Regions from separate parts of the Homo sapiens genome. Here region 1 is linked to region 2. Evidence: fine-mapped expression QTL. A gene starts in region 2. The other region holds a variant in brackets. All regions are shown on one strand. Distances are between the middles of the regions.

Region 1 (2,912 bases), 61 kb after region 2:
GCATCAAAGAGAGATCTGCACTCCCATGTTTTATTGCAGCACTGTTCACAATAGCCAAGATTTGGAAGCAACCTAAACGTCCATCAACAGATGAATGGATAAAGGTAGTACATATACACAATGGAGTGCTACTCAGCCAGAAAAAAGAAGAGATCGAGTCATTTGCACCACATGGATGGAATGGAGGCCATTATGTTAAGTGAAATAAGCCAGGCACAGAAAGGCTAACGTCGCATGTTCTCACTTATTATGTAAGAGCTAAAAATTAAAACAATCGAACTCATAGAGATAGAGAGTAGAAGGACGGTTATCAGAGGCTGGGAAGGGTAGTGGGAGGTAGCGAGGAGGTGTGAATGGTTAATGGATACAAAAATATAGTTAGAAAAATGAATAAGACCTAGTATTTGATAGCATGACAGGGTAACTATAGTCAATGATAATTTAGTTGTACATTCTAAAATAATTAAAAGAGTATAAATTTGATTGTTTGTAAGACAAAGGTTAAGTACATAAGTGGATGGATACCCCATTCACTCTGATGTGATTATTACACATTGCATACCTGTATCAAAACATCTCATGCAGCTCATAAATATATACACCTACTATATACCCACAAAAATAAATATTTAAAACAGAATAGCTTCTCTAATCTTTACAAGGCAGATGGCATTAGCCCATTCTACAGACTCTCAGAGAGGTTTGCTGGCGACCTGCCAATGGTCCCAGAGAGGGGAAGCAGCAGGACAGGATGTAGCTGAGGTCTCACTGGCCCTAAGGCGTATGCTCTTTCAGTGACATTAAACTGTATCTCAAGACAGAAAATGTTTCCGTTATTTTAATAATCGCATGCCCAATGTTTCAATGACAGTATCCGCATTGCTCACAGTAGCCCTGTGTAGAAGGCATTGCTACCTCCATTTCACAGATAAGGAAACTGAGGCTCCCAAAATCACACAGCTAATACATGTCAGAGCCAGGGTTATTGGTCTCCAAATCCCATGCTTGGTCCACACGGCAGGCAGGCTGTGGCAGAGCCCTCTGCCTTAATTCTATCTTTTTAAAAACACCATCTCCACCTCTGCCATTCATTCGTATCTTTCCTCTCCAGTAGACTGTCATGCAGCGTTCCACCCCTCCTCTTCCTCCCCTGGACGTCTCATCCCACATGCCTGGGTTCTGGAGTCAACACTGGGCTAGTGATGGGGAAATTGTTTTCACCAGGAAATCAGGATGAGCAGCTGAAGTCTTCGAGGAAACGCAGTGAAAACAGGAAGCAGCTTCTGTCAGAGGCCAGCTCCTGGCCGAGGAGCCAGGGTGGATGCTTTTCTGTGGGGGTGACCACAGTGCAGAATCCCTGGGGTTTCTATGGAGACACCTC[T/C]GTGGATTTCTCTGTCTCACTCACCTGTGGCAGAGCTCAGGACACCAGCTTTGAAGTAGGCAGAGGCTCCTCATAAAGGGAGGGGAGTTGGTGGCCCCATCTTCCCTCTGAGTCATGACAAAACCTACCCTGGGCTCTGTCAAAACAGGATTCCTAACAAGGTGCCCCTTGCTAGGAGAGGGAGTAAAATAGAGGCAAGCCCTACATTTTGCCAGTGGAATTTTCCAGAAGTGGCATTGTAAAGCAGATTATCCTGAAGCTCATTTTCTTTTCCATGGCAATAACACTATTAATGTCGTGATTCTGACCTGAGAACCTCAGAGAAGCCGTGGATATGGCTGGCTTGGCCAACAGGCTGCCTGCTCAACAGGAGTCTCTCTTCCTGCTGCCAACAGAGCTCAGCTTTGGTCCGGACACACCCGGACATCCAGGCAGGTGGGCAGGCCCCAGTTCTGGCCATTGTGATGTAAGGGGAGCCAGCCGGGGTGCTCTTCGGAAGGATTTTTGCTCCTGTATGAAGCACAATAGTGTAGGAGGGGGCCCAGCCATTTGGCACCTAGGAAGCCACACAAGGCTGAAAACCAGCGGCAGCTGCACTGCGGAGCCGGCAGCCCTGAATCGAGAGCCTTTGCTTCCCTTTGTTGACCAGGCATCTTTATTGCTAAAGCCACCATTCACTCAGTTTTCTCTTCCTTGAAGCCCAACTTAACAGGCAGGCCAACACCCAGCTGTAAAAGCAGACAGCCCTTTCTCTGGCCTCGGTGAGTGCTGCTCTAGTTAGTGATGCCACGGATGAAAGGATCCTGAAGGGGCCTCTGCGCTGTCCAGCCCAACACCCTCCTTCAACATGGAAGGAAGCTGAGTTCAGGGAGGCAGAATGCCTTGCCCAGCAGAAGAACCAGGAATAAGAACTACACTTCCAAGATTTGGAGAGCTGGGAGGACCTACACCCAATCCTGCAGCCGGCCGCATTGGTCTTGTGCTTTAGCCAACCCCACCAGAGCCCGTAGGGACAAGGCAGCCTCTAGGGGCCCCTCCTCTGGCTGCCTCATGCCTGCCTGCCATCCGGCCCCTCCAGTCCTGGAGGGACTGTAATGAGTTAACTGTCTCCAGGGTGGTGGGAACCACTTGGGTTACTGCATATATTTCGGAAGATGCAAATTCAAAGCTCAGGAGAAAAGGACTAATTTTTCCTATGGCAGAATTTCAGAACGCTTGTTTAGAATCCCTCCCCCACACTCCTAAAGCACACTTCGTCGGGCCCTGCTATTCTGTCCCCCATACATCAAGGGGTGGCTTCTCAAGCTAGGACGTTTTCTGCTTGGACTTAGAGAAGATGGGACCCATTTCATGCTTTTCCAGCACAGACTTGCAGCTGTTTCACCACTTGGAGGAGCTCAAGAGACTCAGCAACCTGGGTTCTCTTCCCACTTTGGTCACTCAAAGCGGAAGCAATGCTCCAAACTGCTGGCCATCAGCCCAGTTGTTCTCATGAGTCATCTCATTTACTTCCACAATAGTACCTTAGCGT
Region 2 (2,912 bases):
TTGAGCAGGTGCAGAGAGGGCTCGCAGGGCAGGTTGAAGCTCTTGTGACTGACCAGTCCTCCTGCCCCACACTCAACCAGCTTCATTCCCTGTTGCCCTCCTCCTCCCTTTCTGCCCAACTTCTGCACTCCCCAGCCCACTCCATTTTTGACTTAATGACGTTGCAGTTCCCATCAGCCCCATATTTGGCTCTCTGCAAAGAGAAACAAAAATAATTCATCGTGCCAAAATTTGAAATTTGGGAGCTGCAGCTCATCTGATTACAAATGAGTACCTTTGTGCTTAAATTGCCACCACAAAGTGCAGACTATGACCAACATGCCAGGGAACAGAGCAGGACAGATCCACCCTGGGACTGGGGCTCAGCTGCCCCTTCTCTGTGGCCCCCTGACCCCCTAAACCGCAGACTGGTTTTCATTGCACACGTAGACTGTGCTTGGCTGGATTCTCCTTCGGATCCGCTCAGGCACTTTGGGGAGGATTTGGAAGGTCTGGGGCAGCAACTCTATGCAGGCCTCGCGGAATTTTTTGATTCTCCAGCAGTAGACGATGGGGTTGAAGACGGACTTGAGGTAACTGAGCCACAGGACGCAGGTGCTGGTGGCGTAGAAGGAGGAACCGCAGTAAAAGCGCTGGCTAAACACAGACAGGAGGCTGTAGACGGAGTGGGGCAGCCAGCAGAGGGAGAAGCCCACGAAGAGGATCAGGATGGTGGTGAAGGCCTTGGTCTTGAAGCTCAAGTCCACGCTGACCTGTTGCTGCCGCTGCAGGCGCCGCAGGCCCGCCCTGGTGAGCTGCCGCAGGTCCAGGCTGTCCGACTGGTTGTGCACGCGCACGGCGTTCTTGCGGACCGTGTTGAGGATGCACATGTAGGCGCACAGCATGACGCCAAAGGGCGCGAAGAACACGGCCACCACCAAGGTGACCACGTAGGCGCGGTCAGCGGGGAGCTCCGTGTAGCCCAGCACGCACTGTGGGGCCCGCGCCGGCACCTCCACCAGCGTCCAGCCCGTGAGCGAGGGCCCCGCGATGCAGAAGGACAGCACCCAGGAGACCGCGATGATCACCTTGGCCCTGCGCGGGTTCAGCTTGTCCTGGCGCTGGACGATGATGAGGAAGCGGTCCACGCTGATGATGAGCAGGATGGCCACGCCCTCCAGGACAAAAAACCAGTAGAGCGTGGCTGAGAGGCGGCAGAAGTGGTCCCCAAAGTGCCAGCGCACGGTGATGAGGGTGACGGCGGTGAAGGGCATGCAGCAGAGGGACAGCATGATGTCGGAGAAGGCCAGGGTGGCCAGCAGCAGGTTGATGGCCGAGCGCATAGCCGGCCTCTGGTACACGATGATGCAGACCACAGTGTTGCCCAGGAACCCCACCACGGTCATCAGCAGCATCACTATGGCCAAGGAGATCCTGAGGGGTGCGGGCAACTGGGTGGACCCCGAGTCTGAGGCGTTGCTGGTGTTCAGCAGCAGGTATGTGTAAGCCTCAAGGGACGTGCTGTTGCAGGCCATCGTGGAGAGACCCTTGGAGCTGGGACAGAAATGGCCGGGAGGGCTCCCCTCAGCACTTGGGTGGCTGCCATTCTTTGTCTGCTGGCTGCATCTTCCTGGATGTCTGTGGACCTCTGGGGCACTGGAATGGTCTTGGGGAGAAATGTCCGTCTTTGTGAGCACTAGCTGGGATTTGCGATTCATGGATCACATCCTAAGCATCTCTGTGGAGAGCGACTCTGTGCACAGCTTCGTGCTTGGACCCTCTGTAGTGGACAGCAAGCAAAAGTACAAAAGAGAAGGGGGTTAGAGTTTCCAAACGCGTTGAAGAAAGCACGCGTTTAAGCTTTACAGGTGTTTCTAAACAAGTTTATTTACCACGTGGGACAAAGCTTGATATTCACAAATACTGTCTGAGTCTTGTCAAGCAGCCCAGAAAAACCTAATCAGCTATCTTCTGAGGAAACTGAGGAAGTACACTTTGTAGTTAGTGTTTATGTAATAACTTGAGTTTTCAGCAACCTGTCGGAATGAAGCCTTGGTCTAGCCAACTAACGTTAGAATCCTGCTCCACAAGAGAAAGGTTTTGCTTGTTTCATTCTCTGCTATCTCCCAGTACTGACAACAGTGGCTGGCATGCAGTAAGTGTCCTTGTTGAGGACACTTGGATGCTTGTTGAGTAGATGAATAAGTGATAGTTGATGCTGCTGCTATAATATTTGTTTAGCTTTAAAAAACCCCACTTCATCGAGGAATGACTGACATGTCAAAAGCTGTACAAATTTACATCTCAATATACCAGAAACCCATCACCACCAAGGCCAAAAACATATCCCACTCCCCCTGCCAAAGCTCTCTCCTGCCATTTTTCTAGTATTATCATTTTGTTTTGGTGGTAAGAATACTTCACCTAAGATCTGCCCTCTTAGCAAATTTTAAGTATACATTTTTAAGTTTTAATTTTTTAAAAGAAATTGTAAGTCTGTTTGTTTAACTTTATTTGATAAGTGTAAATTCACATGGATAAGTGTAAATTCACATGGAGTTATAATAATAAATACTATGGTGAAATTCTGTGTGTCCTTCACCCAGTTTTCCCTAATGGTAACATCTTGGATAACTGTGGGGCTGCTATACTATTACTTCTGGAAGCACAGACTGGGAGAAGGGAACTTTCCCCAAAGGTAAGGCCTTTTAAAATACAATGTTAGCTGGGTGCAGTGGCTCATGCCTATAATCCCAGCACTTTGAGAGGCAGAGACAGGAGGATTGCTTGAGGCCAGGAGTTCAAGACCTGCCTGGGCAACATAGAGAGATCCCATCTCTACACACACAAAAAAATGAGCCAGGCTTCCATCTATAGTCCCTGCTACTCAGGAGGCCGAGGCAGGAGGATTGCTCAAGCACAGAAGTTCGAGG

Alleles and levels. Alleles are on the strand shown, and positions count from the first base shown. SD is a standard deviation of normalised expression in the study named.
In carriers of allele C in region 1, the expression in testis of the gene that starts at base 1,630 in region 2 tends to be lower than with T alone (moderate effect, 0.50 SD a copy in GTEx).

The links. PIP is the estimated chance that this variant, and not a neighbour inherited with it, causes the effect.
Region 1: its variant is the best candidate, but not a certain one, in a credible set for the expression of GPR45 in testis (GTEx, PIP 0.67).

The regions. Positions count from the first base shown.
Region 1 is chr2:105,179,803-105,182,714 of GRCh38, reverse strand. No RefSeq gene overlaps it. Among named protein-coding and RNA genes, the nearest start is that of LINC01918, 37 kb to the right of the region's middle. The variant T/C (reference allele first, on the strand shown) is at 1,382.
Region 2 is chr2:105,240,461-105,243,372 of GRCh38, reverse strand. GPR45 (G protein-coupled receptor 45) reads right to left here and starts at 1,630. Exons shown (of 1, transcript NM_007227.3): 1 at 1-1,630. The coding sequence starts at 1,514. The coding sequence ends at 396.